4 linked regions of the Homo sapiens genome follow. The protein of the gene in region 4 purifies or fractionates together with the protein of the main gene of each other region. This does not show direct contact. Each region holds a gene or a part of one and is shown on either strand. Other genes may lie near its edges.

What was found.
Region 1: the proteins of CWC25 (region 4) and KIF13B purify together in Homo sapiens (affinity purification with mass spectrometry, with the first as the bait; one large-scale study listed by BioGRID). This does not show direct contact.
Region 2: the proteins of CWC25 (region 4) and DHX8 purify together in Homo sapiens (co-immunoprecipitation; one large-scale study listed by IntAct). This does not show direct contact.
Region 3: the proteins of CWC25 (region 4) and KCTD3 purify together in Homo sapiens (affinity purification with mass spectrometry, with the first as the bait; one large-scale study listed by BioGRID). This does not show direct contact.

What each region holds. Positions count from the first base shown.
Region 1 is NC_000008.11:29,074,571-29,078,070, reverse strand, and holds part of KIF13B (kinesin-like protein KIF13B), read left to right. Parts: intron 1-2,727; coding exon 2,728-2,790; intron 2,791-3,500. UniProt on the Homo sapiens protein: Involved in reorganization of the cortical cytoskeleton. Regulates axon formation by promoting the formation of extra axons. May be functionally important for the intracellular trafficking of MAGUKs and associated protein complexes.
Region 2 is NC_000017.11:43,500,975-43,504,474, forward strand, and holds part of DHX8 (ATP-dependent RNA helicase DHX8), read left to right. Parts: intron 1-3,500.
Region 3 is NC_000001.11:215,573,804-215,577,303, forward strand, and holds part of KCTD3 (BTB/POZ domain-containing protein KCTD3), read left to right. Parts: coding exon 1-36; intron 37-263; exon of another isoform or gene 264-269; coding exon 270-315; intron 316-2,097; coding exon 2,098-2,171; intron 2,172-3,500. UniProt on the Homo sapiens protein: Accessory subunit of potassium/sodium hyperpolarization-activated cyclic nucleotide-gated channel 3 (HCN3) up-regulating its cell-surface expression and current density without affecting its voltage dependence and kinetics.
Region 4 is NC_000017.11:38,808,322-38,811,821, reverse strand, and holds part of CWC25 (pre-mRNA-splicing factor CWC25 homolog), read left to right. Parts: intron 1-1,226; coding exon 1,227-1,354; exon of another isoform or gene 1,355-1,546; intron 1,547-2,056; coding exon 2,057-2,120; intron 2,121-3,500. UniProt on the Homo sapiens protein: Involved in pre-mRNA splicing as component of the spliceosome.

The DNA.
Region 1 (3,500 bases), on a different chromosome or scaffold from region 4:
CCTCAGGTGATCCTCCTGCTGCGGCCTCCCAAACTGCTGGGATTATAGGCGTGAACCACCGTGCCTGGCCTCCTCTCTGCTTTTGAAGCTTCCACTCCACTGTCACCTTCCTTGATTTTAGTGATTTGCTTATGTGTTCCCCACCAATCAGGTTGCCCATCTGTTGAGAGCAAAGCCCATGCCTCTGATGCTGATGTTGCCTGAGGCACCTGGTGCCACGCCCCCCGCATGGTAGGACCTGGTGCAGTCTCTGTTGAGCTGAACTTTTTTACATGGAGAGTGAGAACCAAAGTGGCAGTCAGTCGAGTCCCTGAATCCATTTCAGCAAATATTTAATAAGCATCTATCTACTGGGTTTTTCTAATCACACTGGGTCCTGAAGGAAAGTGTAACTTGTTTGCATGTTCTATTTCAGAGGGCAGGAATCATGTGATTTTAGAAAAGGTTTCATGTTAGGCGCTTAACATCCCATCCTTGGGGTATTTGCATTTTTAGGCTTTAAGGGGAATAAACTTCACCTTTGTGGAAACAGTTGTTCCCCAATCTTGTCCACTTTAGGTAAGATGTAGTGAAGAATGCAAGTATTTTGGAGTTTGAGAAATGTTTTTTCTGCTTTTGTCATGAAATATACCCTTGAACACCTTCCCATTTGTGGGGACGTTAAATACTATAGGCAGAAAAATGAAGATACGAGCCCTGGCATGCGAGGACTGCGTGGCAGTGTGGGACGCGTGCTTGAGCCTCACTTTCTTCTCTGGGAGATGGCGGTAGGCGGGGCCGTGGAGAGCAGTAGTGGGACAGAAGGAGCTGAGTGCTGGGAGGGGCGCAGAGGGGAGACTGTTCTGGTCAAGGAATTGAGGTGGAGGCTGAAGGTCTTGTTCTTCAGGCCTTGTCATGTGCAATGGCCTAACTGCCACCAGGGGACCCTCCCTCATTCTGTCCCATTGGCTGCTCACATAATCTTTAATGCACCCTGGTCCTAGCTGTCCTGGGCCTCAGACCACCCCAGGAACTCCCTAGTGGTTGCAGTGTAAAGTACACATTCCTTTTGTTCATTTCCTTGGTCCTTCCACCTTATTTTCTTTTTTTCTTCTTTGACACAGGGTCTTGCTTTGTTGCCCAGGGTGGAGTGTGGTGGTGTGATCATAGCTCACTGCAGCCTCCAACTCCTGGGCTTAAGTGATTCTCCTGCCTCAGCCTCCTGAGGAGCTGGGACTGCAGGTGTGCACCACCACATCTGGCTCCAGTCCTTCCAGGTCTTTAAGCCTGATCGCTGCGTTTCCTCTCGAGTCCTCTCCACTGCACCTTTTCTCAAATCCTGCCAGTGCCCCCTTACCTTCTGTGGAATCAATTCCCTCTTATACTTTTCTTCCAAAAGCAGCCCCAAGGCACGAGTGGTCATAGTGGTGCCCTCAGGTGAAGCGAGGCTATTCCATGCTTGTAAACATGGTGAGCACCCTGCTGAGCGGGCTGGCTTCTTCGGGACTCTTCTCCCTACAGCTGGAGTCCAGGCTCCCCAGTAGGAAGGAAGGCCTGGGCGGTGTGGCTCGCGCCTGCAGGCTCTGTCTAGAAGGCCTGACTCCATCGAGGCCTCAAGTGCCCAGACGCACAAGAGCCAAAGCACCAGGACTGCCGAGGGCTGGGAGAAGGGAGGTGGGAGACGTGGAGTCCACATCTCTGGGCAGTTAAAGTTCAGTAACCGAGCAGCCACCAGCTGTGCCCTGTGGACCCAACAAGAAAGAAGCCCTACCCGCGGCTGTCCTGGCAGAATGGAGCCCTCATGAGAGCCCAGCATGGGAGGCCAGGCCTGGTTCCTGCAGTCGGGTAGGGGGAGGGGGAGGGGCAGAAGTGGCATGTTCCCAGCTTCTTCTGGGATGAGCACATCTGCTCGGCTGCTTCTGTGTCCCACAGCCACTCCGCAGCAACAGAATGATGCTCTGGTTCCTTCTCTCCCCGAGGCTTCCCTTTTCCTGGCTCTGATGATTCTTAACTCTGTCTCTTTAATGTTCCCTGGCCCATGTGTCCACAAGTAACCAGGCCCTTTCCTGTGGCTCTTACCTCCTCCCCCTGCTCTGTCACTGGAGTTGCATTACTGATCTGCCTCTTTGGACTTTAAATATTCTTCCGGTCATGTTGTGTCCCCACCCGGACAGTGTCTCTGGCCTTCAGCTGTCTTCTTGCTTTGCTCAGGACTCAGTGGGGACCCCCTTCCTCTCCTGAGTAGGGTTAGTTTCCGATGCCCAGGGCCTTCTGCAGACCTGTGCCTGCCATCTTGGGCTCTGGGTTTGTGCTCCAGCCAGCCTGGCCTCCTTCCTCCTCCCCTCCTGTGACTACACTCCTTCCTCTCCCCAGCCATCAGAGCCTGGCATGGCTTTCACCTCCTGCCGGAAGTCTTTCTGTATCTTTCCTGTCTCATAATGCTTGTCTGTACAGGCCCAGTCCTCGGTTCACATGTGCATATGTGATTGGAGGGAGGGAGAGAGCGTCGTGTGTGTAAGTGCACCATGTGTGTTGGTGATCTTGGCATGTGGCCTGTTTCCCTGGCTGGGGGAGGAGCCCCTTGCTGGGTCCCTTGTTCCTTGGAGGGTGTGGAGCCCCTCACACTCGCACACCTGATGGGCCGATTCCCCTCGGGCAGGTCCTGGCCCTCCAGCCTGTGCAGCGGAAACCTTTCTGCTACCCCTGTTCTGTCCTCTCGACCCCTGACCTGCACACTTGCCTCCTCAGCCCGTGCCCCGCATCATGGTGCAGTCAGCCAGCCCGGACATCAGGGTGACCAGGATGGAGGAGGTGAGTCTGTTGGGTCACGGGTGGCCACCCCACCTACAGCGAGCAGGTGGCCCTGATGCCGAAACTGTTGAGTCCACACCCACAGTTTTTGATGTTAGCATTCCTGTTTTGGTAATTAGTTATAATATAGGTCACTGCCTTCTCCCTCTCTATTTTCCTTGTTATACTTTTCTATTTTCAACTTGTTAATCATATGATTGCTAAACTTTTAGGTGCTTGACTGCTAATGTAGTCTGCTGCCTTAATAGCCCACAGCTAGGCAGAGGAGATTTCTATAAACAGAACAATCTCCTTCTTCTAAATGTTTGCTTAATTCTCAGTTTTACATTTCATTCTGATTCATGATATCAGCGTGAAAAGACGAATGCTAAGCTGTGGAGAAAATAGTCTCTTATAATCTCCCACAGATCAACAGCACTTCTAATCTTATGAATAGCAAATCTATTTTCTCCCACTGCGCTTTCATTCTCTTAGGAAATGCTGTATCTTCTTAGGAAAATTTTCTTTATTAAAACAACAGCAACAGAGGCACAATCATTAGAAAGAATATTCAGATCTCCGTGAATTTACTTCTATCTGAATGACCTTTTTACCCCAGTGCACACTGGGCATTCACGAATTTGCTGTGGCCGGGATCGGGGTGCCCCCTCCCCTGGGAATGGTGCCGGTCTCTTCTCTGAGGCAGGTTTGAGTGTCCCTGGTCAGCAGGA
Region 2 (3,500 bases), 4.7 Mb from region 4:
TGCAGTAAATATTAGCTACTAGATATAGTCATAACAAATACTTATTAATTTAATTTGTGTTTGGCAACTGGGGATACGATTTGAATTAAACAGATATGATCCCTGCTTTTATGCGCTACAACTTAGTCGGGGATATGGATATTAATTAAATAATCACCAAATAATTAAATTATGATCAGTGCCATGTGAAGAAGTACAGGCAGTGTAATTGACTGTGGTGGGTCACTTCCCTGGGGAAATCGAGACCCAAAGGATAAATTGGACTCAGTCTGTCAAGTGGAGATGGGATGGAGGTTGGGGAGTATGTTCCAGCCTGAGGAGTAGCCCGTGTTGGGTTTGTGGGGTGGGAAAGAAGGAACTGAAAGAAGGCTTGTGTGGATGGAATAGAGAGAGCAGTGGGCAGTGGTAGGGGATGAGATAAGAACATCAGGCCAGGGCTTTGTAGGTGGCATTAGGAAGCTGGGCTCAATTCTAATAGCACTGGGAGATGTTGAAAAGTTCTTTTGTTGTTGTTGTTTTTGTTTCTGAGACAGAGTTTTGCTCTTGTTGCCTAGGCTGGAGTGCAACACCATGATCTTGACTCACTGCAACCTCCACCTCCCTGGTTCAAGTGATTCTCCTGCCTCAGACTCCCAGGTAGCTGGGATTACAGGCATGCACCACCACGCCTAGCTAATTTTTTGTATTTTTAGTAGAGACGAGGTTCCTCCATGTTGGTCAGGCTGGTCTCGAACTCGCGACCTCAGGTGATCCCCCCCCCATCTCAGCCTCCCAAAGTGCCGGGATTACAAGTGTGAGCCACCGTGCCCAGCCAGATGTTGAAAGTTTGCAGCTGGCACATGGCATGACCAGAGTTGCATTTCCAAAGGATGATTGAGGGTGCCCTGCAGAATGAGTTGGATGGGGCACATGTGATGATTTAGAAAGCTTTTATGAAGAGAGAGAATGGTGGCTTGAACATGGAGGTAGCAAAGAGGAGGGATGTACTTGAGAAAAGTAATTTGTTGAATGTGGGGCAACAGGAATGGTCAAAGATGACTTCCAGGTTTCTGGTATGAGCACTAGGATGAATGATGGGAACACTGGAGGAGAAATGGGTTTGTGGGGAAAGATGGTCAAATTCCGTTTTGGACTTGTGTCCGAGGCAACTAGAGGACATCTTAGGTTGAGGTATCCAGTGTAGAATTGAGTATAAGAGCTCAGAAGAGAGGTCTGGGCTGGAGACAGAAGTTTGGGAATTGTGTTAATTTAGATATCAGTTTGGCTGCATGTAATAGAGATTCAAATATTAGATTAGGTTCGGCATGATGGCTCACGCCTGTAATCCCAACACTTTGGGAGGCCGAGGCAGGAGAATTGCTTGAGGCCAGGAGTTCAAGACCAGTCTGGGCAACATAGTAAGACCTTATCTGTATTTTATTTTATTTTGTTTTGTTTTGTTATTTTAGTTTAGTTTAGTTTAGTTTTTGAGATGGAGTCTCACTATGTTGCCCCAGCTGGAGTGCAGTGGTGCAGTCTTGGCTCACTGCAACCTCTGCCTCCTGGGTTCAAGCGATTCTCCTGCCTCAGCCTCAAGTAGCTGGGACTACAGGTGACCGCCACCACGCACGAGTAATTATTTTGCATTTTTGGTAGAGACAGCGTTTCACCATGTTGGTCAGGCTGGTCTCGAACTTCTGACCTCAAATGATCTTGCCCACCTTGGCCTCCCAAAGTGCTGGGATTACTGGTGAGCCACCGTGCCTAGCCCTTGTCTCTATTTTAAAATTAAATTTTTAAAAACGACAAAAATAAAAACCAAAATATTAGATTTACAGTAGAAGGTTGGACATATTCGTTCATTGTTTAACAATATCATCTTCCATTTCCTCAGAATAAACCCATTCATTCCCTTTTACCCTTTAGTGAAATGTTCTCCATGACCCTCCTTTGGCCTCTGCCTAAGCTCACTTATTTGGTTAGTAGGCATAAGTATTTTTTCGTAGCCAGCTTTTGGCATCAAATTTGTAAAATGTTTGCATATGCTAGAGAGCCACTAAAATTCTGCTCATTTTTTTTTGCTCCTCAAGCCACAATTCCAAGGTGAATCTTGAAAATATAAGCTAGGTCTGGGCAAGGTGGCTCACACCTGTAATCCCAGCACTTTGGGAGGCTGAGGCAGACAGATCACTTGAGTTGGGGAATTTGAAACCAAGCTGGGCAATGTGGTGAAACCCTGTCTCTAAAAAAATACAAAAATTAGTCCAGGCATGGTGGCTCATGCCTGTAATCCCAGCAGTTTGGGAGGCTGAGGCGGGTGGATCACCTGAGGTCAGGAGTTTGAGACCAGCCTAGCCAACATAGTGAAACCCCATCTGTGCTAAAAACAGAAAAATTAACAGATGTGGTGGCACGCACCTGTAATCCCAGCTGCTAGGGAGGCTGAGGCAAGAGAATCACTTGAACCTGGGAGGCGGAGGTTGCAGTGAGCCGAGATCACGCCATTGCACTCCAGCCTGGACAACAATTGCGAAACTCCATCTAAAAAAAAAAAAAAAAAGTTTAGCCGTGTGTAATCACGTGCACCTGTATTCCCAGCTACTCAGGAGGCTAACGTGGGAGGATTGCTTGAGCCCAGGAGGTGGAGGTTGCTGAGCTGAGATCTCGCCACTGCACTCCAGCCTGCTGGGCGTCTGAGCCAGACCCTGTCTCAGAAAAAGAAAAAAATTAATCTGAGAGAAACCAGGCACAACAGACCACATATTGTATGAAGTATCCAGAATAGAACCCGTAGACATAGAAAGTAGACTAATGGTTGCCAAGGGAAAGGAAAAGGGAGGAATGGGGAGTAACTGCTAATGGGTACAGGGTTTCTTTCTGATATGATGAAAATACTCTAAATAGTGGGGATAGTTGCACAACTTAATGAATATACAGTAAAACACTGAGTTAAACACTTAAAAAGAGTAACACGGAGACCTGGCTTGGTGGCTCATACCTGTAATCCCAGCACTTTGGGAGGCCAAGGAGAGAGGATTCCTTGAACCCAGGAATTTGAGGCTGCAGTGAGCCGTGATTGCGTCACTGCACTCCAGCCTGGGAAACAGAGCAAGACCCTGTCTCAAAAAAATAAAATAAAATAAAAAAAGTGTAACATGGTTTGTGAATTACATCTCGATATAGCAGTTATTTAAAAAGGGGAGAGTGCTGCGCATGGTGGCCATACCTGTAATTCCATTACTTTGGGAGGGTGAGATGGGTGGATTGCTTTAGCCCAGGAGTTCGAGACCAGCCTGGCAACATAGAGTGACCTCTTCTCGCTTGAGCCCAGAAGGTCGGGGCTGCAGTGAGTCAGGATTGCACCACTGCACTCCCACTTGGATGACAGAGCAAGACCCTACCTAAAAAAAAATAATTCCAGTGTCAAGCAGTCAGGTCTTCACTTCTCTCAACTAACCTTTTTTCTGACATCACAGGTGTGTAGCACCACTTGTTACAGTCTCTTTCCCATTCCCTGCTGC
Region 3 (3,500 bases), on a different chromosome or scaffold from region 4:
AACTCTTATGTGGATTCCAGATTCTTTTTTTTCCAGGTATGTCTTATAATTCTTTAGTGTATATTTTAATACATTTATTTACCAAAATATAATAATGTTTGTCAGTTAAATTTTTTTTAATAAAAAAGGTTAACTCTTAAAATTATATATTTTTGAACTTGGAAGATAGATAACTTACTTTTAGTGGTCTTTAACATTTGGTAAAGAATTAGCACATTTGTTTATACTCAGATTTTAAAAACTAACTTTAGATTATTAATGACTTCCAGTTTGCTGAGTGGGAGAATTTCAACACTTCGAGATGAAACTGGTGCTGTGAGTATAATAATAATTGATACATATTCCTAAATTAATGCTTATAGTGCTTGGTCCTAACATATAGTTACTCTAAGAATATAGGAGAACTGATATTTTAATAATCACTGAATGAAAGTGGCATAATTTTATTTCTTGTCATATGTAGTTTTTTATAATCAGAGAAGATCCCTAAGTAGGGAATACTATATATGGCAATTTAAGTATTCATGATTAGAGAGATTGTAGGATATGAGCTTACATTGGCATTAGAAGAAATTTTTTTAGATCAATAATTGAAACTTTAACAGTAAGTGGATAAATGTAAATATTCTAATATTTTTATATTAGAATATAAGAGGTTAAATTAGTAAACTCCTACAGTTTTTTATTTTATTTTGGAGAATAACCTTGCGAATTTGTTTATACAGCATTGGTACAGTGAGGGAAGGAAAGAATTGTAAAGTTTCAGTGCAAAAAAATTGGTTTATCCATTTGGAGGCAACAAAGTGACCAATGGTATTTATTTGCTGTGGTGAGATTTGCAGATGAAATAAGGCAACAAATGCAGATATGTCCATGTGAAATTATAAAAAGTTATCAATAATAAGATCTCCACAAATCTGTGATGTCTCTTCGATTTTTGATGTGCTCTAATGAAAACAAAAGAAAATTTATAAAGCTTAGAAGAATCTCATTGATTGTATATATATAGTTGATCATAGTAGGAAGAGTTTTATTACTGGCTGCCATTTCCCTTTCTAATTGATTTACATAAGCTTTAAAAGATGTTCCGTTTTTATGGCCAGATCTTTTGTAAATGATTCAAAATAGGTGTTGGTATAAATTTCCATAAAAAGTTATCAATTATGGGCTGGGTGGGGTGGCTTATGCCTGTAATTCCAGCACTTTAGGAGGTCGAGGCAAGTGGATTACCTGAGGTCAGAAGTTCAAGACCAGCATGGCCAACATGGTGAAACCCCCTCTCTACTAAAAACAGAAAAATTAACCCGGCATAGTGGCAGGTGCCTCTAATCCCAGCTACTCAGGAGGCTGAGGCAGGAGAATTGCTTGAACTTAGGAGGTGGAGGTTGCAGTGAGCCCAGATCGTGCCACTGCACTCCAGCCTAGATGAGAGAGCAGGATGCTGTCTCAAAACAAACAAACAAACAAAAGTTACCAATTATGTATTTTACATTTTTAAGCAATTTGTTTTCCTCTTATGTATTCTGTGGTGCTTTAGTTTAAAAAAAAAAAATTGTCATTACCTTTCCCCAGCTCTGAAGGAAATTGAGATTAGTAAAAGTATTATGAGAATAGTATTCTTTTCCACTTTTGACAGCAGTGTGCAGTATTTACTTTTCTCAAGTACCCCTGTGTGCATTATTAAAGTACATTGTAGTTTTAATGATTGAACAGTATAAGAAAGTATTATTTATTCATGTTTTCGAAGTATTAATTGAATTCTAGACTGTTTCAGATAAAAATGTTTCCTCAGGTGTCACTTTTACCAAAGGTATCAATACAAGTGATTTTATTAGACAAGATTTTTTCTATGTATTAAAATATCAGTTTAATAATAACTATTCAGAGGAAGAAAAAGACACCATCTCAAGAAAAAGACACCATCTCATGAAATGCACACAGACTACATTCCAATTTTAGAAACATTAAAGTTTAAGAGTGGAAACAAGGAAATGTAGTATTTAAGTAATTAAGACTTCATTCCCTATTAGTGTTACAGATATTAAAGTTAAAAGATTAATTTGTAATTTGAAAATAAAACTGTTCTCTTTTTTACAGATATTTATTGATAGAGATCCAGCAGCATTTGCACCCATTTTAAATTTTCTTCGGACAAAAGAACTAGACTTAAGGTAAGAAATGCACTCTTTTTAAAGTAAATTCTTACTGATAAATATGTGTTTTTAATATGTTTTATGAAATAAAAGGTTTTTTTTGTTTGTTTTTTTTTTTCCTTGAGTTGCAGTCTTGCTCTGTTGCCCAGGCTGGAGTGCAGGAGTGCAGTGGCATGATCTCTGCTCACTGCAACCTCCGCCTTTCAGGTTCAAACAATTCTCCTGCCTCAGCCTCCCGAGTAGCTGGGACTGTAGGCACATGCCACCATGCCCGGCTGATTTTTTGTATTTTAGTAGAGAAGGGGTTTCACTGTGTTGCCCAGGCTGATTGCAAACGCCTGAGCTCAGGCAGTCTCCCCGCCTTAGCCTCCCAAAGTGCAGGGATTACAGGAATGAGCCACTACGCCCAGCCAGAAAAGGTTTTTTTTTTTTTACTAAGACTTTGATTAAAAGTTTCCTCACACTGAAACTGGATGTGGTGGTACACGCCTATAATCCCAGCTACTCTAGAGAAGAAGCTGAGGCAGGAGGATCCCTTGAGGCCGGGAGTTTGAGGCTGCAGTGAGTTATGATCATGCCTCTGGCCAGTACTGCTGTACTGTTAACACAAATAGTTTCGAAATAGAATAAGAAAGTTTGAAGCTTTTTTTTTTTGAGACTGAGTCTTACTCTGTCACCCAGACTCACTGCAATCTCCACCTCCCGGGTTCACGCCATTCTCCTGCCTTAGCCTCCCAAGTAGCTGGGACTACAGGCACCCGCCACCACACCCGGCTAATTTTTTTGTATTTTTAGTAGAGATGGGGTTTCACCGTTTTAGTCATGATGGTCTCCATCTCCTCACCTCGTAATCCACCCGCCTTGGCCTCCCAAAGTGCTGGGATTACAGGTGTGAGCCACCGCCCCCAGACACAAAGTTTTAAGCATTTTTAATGTTAAACTAGTCATAACCAGTTTCACAAATAAAAACAATTTAACATAGTAATTGTATATATTTATCAAGGCTGGGGAATATTTTTAAAATAAGGACAAATTACAACTGAAACCTAAGATGAATTATTAGTATTATAAGTTCTGAATCTTCCATTTTTTAAAAATTTTATTTCATGTTACTTAACTTTACTACTATGAAGTAGCATCATTTCATCTGGATAACATAGCCCTTCCCAAGGCTAGTCTTTTTTTTTTTTCTATTTTATTTGTTCAACAAATATTTATTACATAACTATTTTATACAAGCACTATGCTAGGCACTGTGAGGTATACAAACATAGATCAGAAATAGATCATGCTCGCAGGGAATTTATAGTGTAATTGGGGAGATTAAGATAGATATGTATAGAAATA
Region 4 (3,500 bases):
GTTCCTGTGACACAGAATGGAAACTCCTAGGCAGTGGTTTTGGTGACTGTTTAAAAACACAAATTCTTAGTCTCACCTACCAGATACCAGTTCAGTAGTTGGGGGTGTTAGTGCACGGCCAGGGTTAAGACCCTTCCCCTGGTGTGTTGACAGGGAACCCCTATAATGTCCTGGACTTCTGTAGACCCAGAGGCATGGAGTCAGGCAGTTTGTGCATGAGCCACGCCCCTCAAAGGAGACTGATAGGGGTCTCAGTAATCTTTTTTTTTTTTTTTTTTTTTGAGACGGAGTCTCGCTCTGTTGCCCAAGGTGGAGTGCAGTGGTGCAGTGACACGATCTTAGCTCACTGCAAACTCCGCCTCCCAGGTTCATGCCATTCTCCTGCCTCAGCCTCCTGAGTAGCTGGGACTACAGGCGCCTGCTACCATGCCCAGCTAATTTTTTGTATTTTTAGTAGTGATGGTGTTTCACCGTGTTAGCCAGGATGGTCTCCTTCTCCTGACCTTGTGATCCACCCGCCTTGGCCTCCCAAAGTGCTGGGATTACAGGTATGAGCCACCCCGCCTGGGCTTTTTGTTTTTTTTTAATGAGATGGAGTCTCACTCTGTCGCCCAGGCTGCTGGAGTGCAGTGGCGTGATCTCAGCTCACTGCAACCTCTGCCTCCTGGGTTCAAGTGATTCTTCTGCCTCAGCCTCCCGAGTAGCTAGAACTACAGGTACACACCACCACACCCAGCTAATTTTTGTATTTTTAGTAGAGATGGTCTTTCACCATATTGGCCAGGGTGGTCTCGAACTCCTGACCTTGTGATCCTCCCACCTCAGCCTCTCAAAGTGCTGAGAGATTACAGGCGTGAGCCACCATGCCCAGCCAGTAATCTTTTTTTTTTTTTTTTTTTTTGAGACACAGTTTCACTCTGTCACCCAGGCTGAAGTGCAGTGGCACAATCTCGGCCCACTGCAACCTCTGCCTCCTGGTTCAGGTGATTCTTGTACCTCACCTCTCAAGTAGCTGGTATTACAGGTGCCCACCACCACACCCAGCTGATTTTTGTATTTTTAGTAGAGATGGGGTTTTGCCATGTTGGCCAGGCTGGTCTCGAACTCCGGACCTCAAGTGATGATCTGCTCCACTCAGCCTCCCAAAGTGCTGGGATTACAGGCATGAGCCACTGCGCTGGCTGGTCTCAGTAATCTTGTGTGCTTGTGTTCTCGGCATTTTCCAGTTGCAAATGAGTCTGGAAAAAAAGGAGAAGAAGAAAAAGAAGGAGAAGAAAAAGAAGCACAAGAAACATAAGCACAGAAGCTCGAGTAGTGATCGTTCCAGCAGCGAGGATGAGCACAGTGCAGGGAGGTGAGCATGTGGCGACTGGCCTCCCTTCTCGTTGATTCACTTGCTCATTCACTCATTCATTCCACAGACATGAACACCTGCCCTGTGCTGGAAGCTGCCAGGTACTGGGCATTCAGTGATGAACACTTGAACATGGGCCCAGTGCCCACAGAGCTTGCCATCTAATGCTAGAGTTCCTTGGAGATGCTAAATGTGAGTGGGTATCTTGGCCATGCTGCTGGAGAGAGACCCTTAATAATGCTGACTTTAGCCTAGTAGGTCTTAGGTAGGTCAGACATCCTGGGGGTGACTCTGTTTCATCTCAGCTTAGGATTCCTTCAAGACTGAAGTGGGCTTTATATAGGCTTTTTTTAATGGACTGATGGCTGATGTGGGCCCATTTTGCATGTCTTCCTGTGGAAGCAGTCAGCTCCGCCGCTGCTGAGTCACTATTTGTCCCTGGAATAGCAGCATGAAGTGAGAGGAGAAGGTGTTCAGGCGTTGGGGCTTAGAAGCGAGGCCCACAGTTTTTCACAGGAAAATTTGATTGTGCTGATGCATTTTTCGGCATAGACAGTCCAAATAGAGAAACGTACTGCCAGGTAACTGCTGGGAGGCGGAAAGGTCACATTGGAGGCAAGAAGCATAGTTCAGCATAAGATATTTAAATTGGACCTATATATATTTTCTTTTTCAATGAGTGTGTGTATTTTGATCTCTTAGATCACAGAAGAAGATGGCAAATTCCTCCCCTGTTTTGTCCAAAGTCCCTGGATATGGCTTACAGGTAGGGATGTGGGCTTCTTGAAAGGAGTGACTGTGGGACTGTGGGATGTGCCACTTGGACAATGTGGATAGCAGGGAGGTGGGCAGTGAAGCCTGGGCTGCTGGGAAACAGGCCCATTCTTATCGCTGAGCACCTTCTTGTGGCTGATGACCCTCTGAGCAGAGAGACTAAACCACCAATGGGGCATTGAGACATTCTACCCATCCCTCTACAAATAATTTACATGAAATGCACACATTTTAAGTGTATAGGTTTTTTTGTTTTTTTTTTTTTTTGAGACGGAGTCTCGCTTGTCACCCAGGCTGGAGTGCAGTGGCGCGATCTCGGCTCACTGCAACCTCTGCCTTCCGGGTTCAAGCTATTCTCCTGCTTTAGCCTCCCGAGTAGCTGGGATTACAGGCGCCCACCACCACGCCCGACTAATTTTTGTATTTTTAGTAGAGACAGGGTTTCGTCATGTTGGCCAGGATGGTCTTGAACTCCTGACCTCAGGTGATCCCTCCGCCTCGGCCTCCCAAAGTGCTGGGATTACAGGTGTGAGCCACCGTGCCTGGCCTAAGTGTGTAGGTTGATGATTTTTGACAAACATAAATCTGCTGGGTTCTTTTTTTTTTTTTTTGAGTAGCAGTGCATCATTATTTTGCCTAGGCTGGTCTCGAACTCCTGAGCTTAAGCAATCTTCTGAGTAGCTGGAAGTACAAGTTCAAGGCACCTGGCTTGACTTCTGTATTTCTGTATTTTTTTTTTTTTTTTTTGAGGTGGAGTTTTGCTCTTGTTGCCCAGGTTAGAGTGCAATGGCGCGATCTCAGCTCACCACAACCTCGACCTCCTGGGTTCAAGCAATTCTCCTGCCTCAGCCTCCCGAGTAGCTGGGATTACAGGCATGCACCACCATGCCCGGCTAATTTTGTATTTTTAGTAGAGACAGGGTTTCTCCATGTCAACCAGGCTGGAGTGCAATGGTGCAATCTCAGCTCACTGCAACCTCTGCCTCCTGGGTTCAAGCGATTCTCCTGCCTCAGCCTCCTGAGTAGCTGGGATTACAGGCACCTGCCATCACACCTGGCTAATTTTTGTATTTTTAATAGAGACAGGGTTTCTCCATGTTCGTCAGGCTGGTCTCAAACTCCTGGCCTCAAGCTATCCGCCTGTCTCGGCCTCCCAAAGTGCTGGGATTATAGGCGTGAGCCACCATGCCTGGCCTCATATTTCTGTATTTTTAACCTTGGGTCCTGTCCTCCATGCTTCTGCATCTCGCTCTTCCTTAACCTATAGTGAAGAGCTAAGCCAGGTGTATTCTTTTCTTTCTTTTTTTTTTTTGAGAGGGAGTCTCGCTCTGTCGCCCAGGCTGGAGTGCAATGGTGCGATCTCGGCTCACTG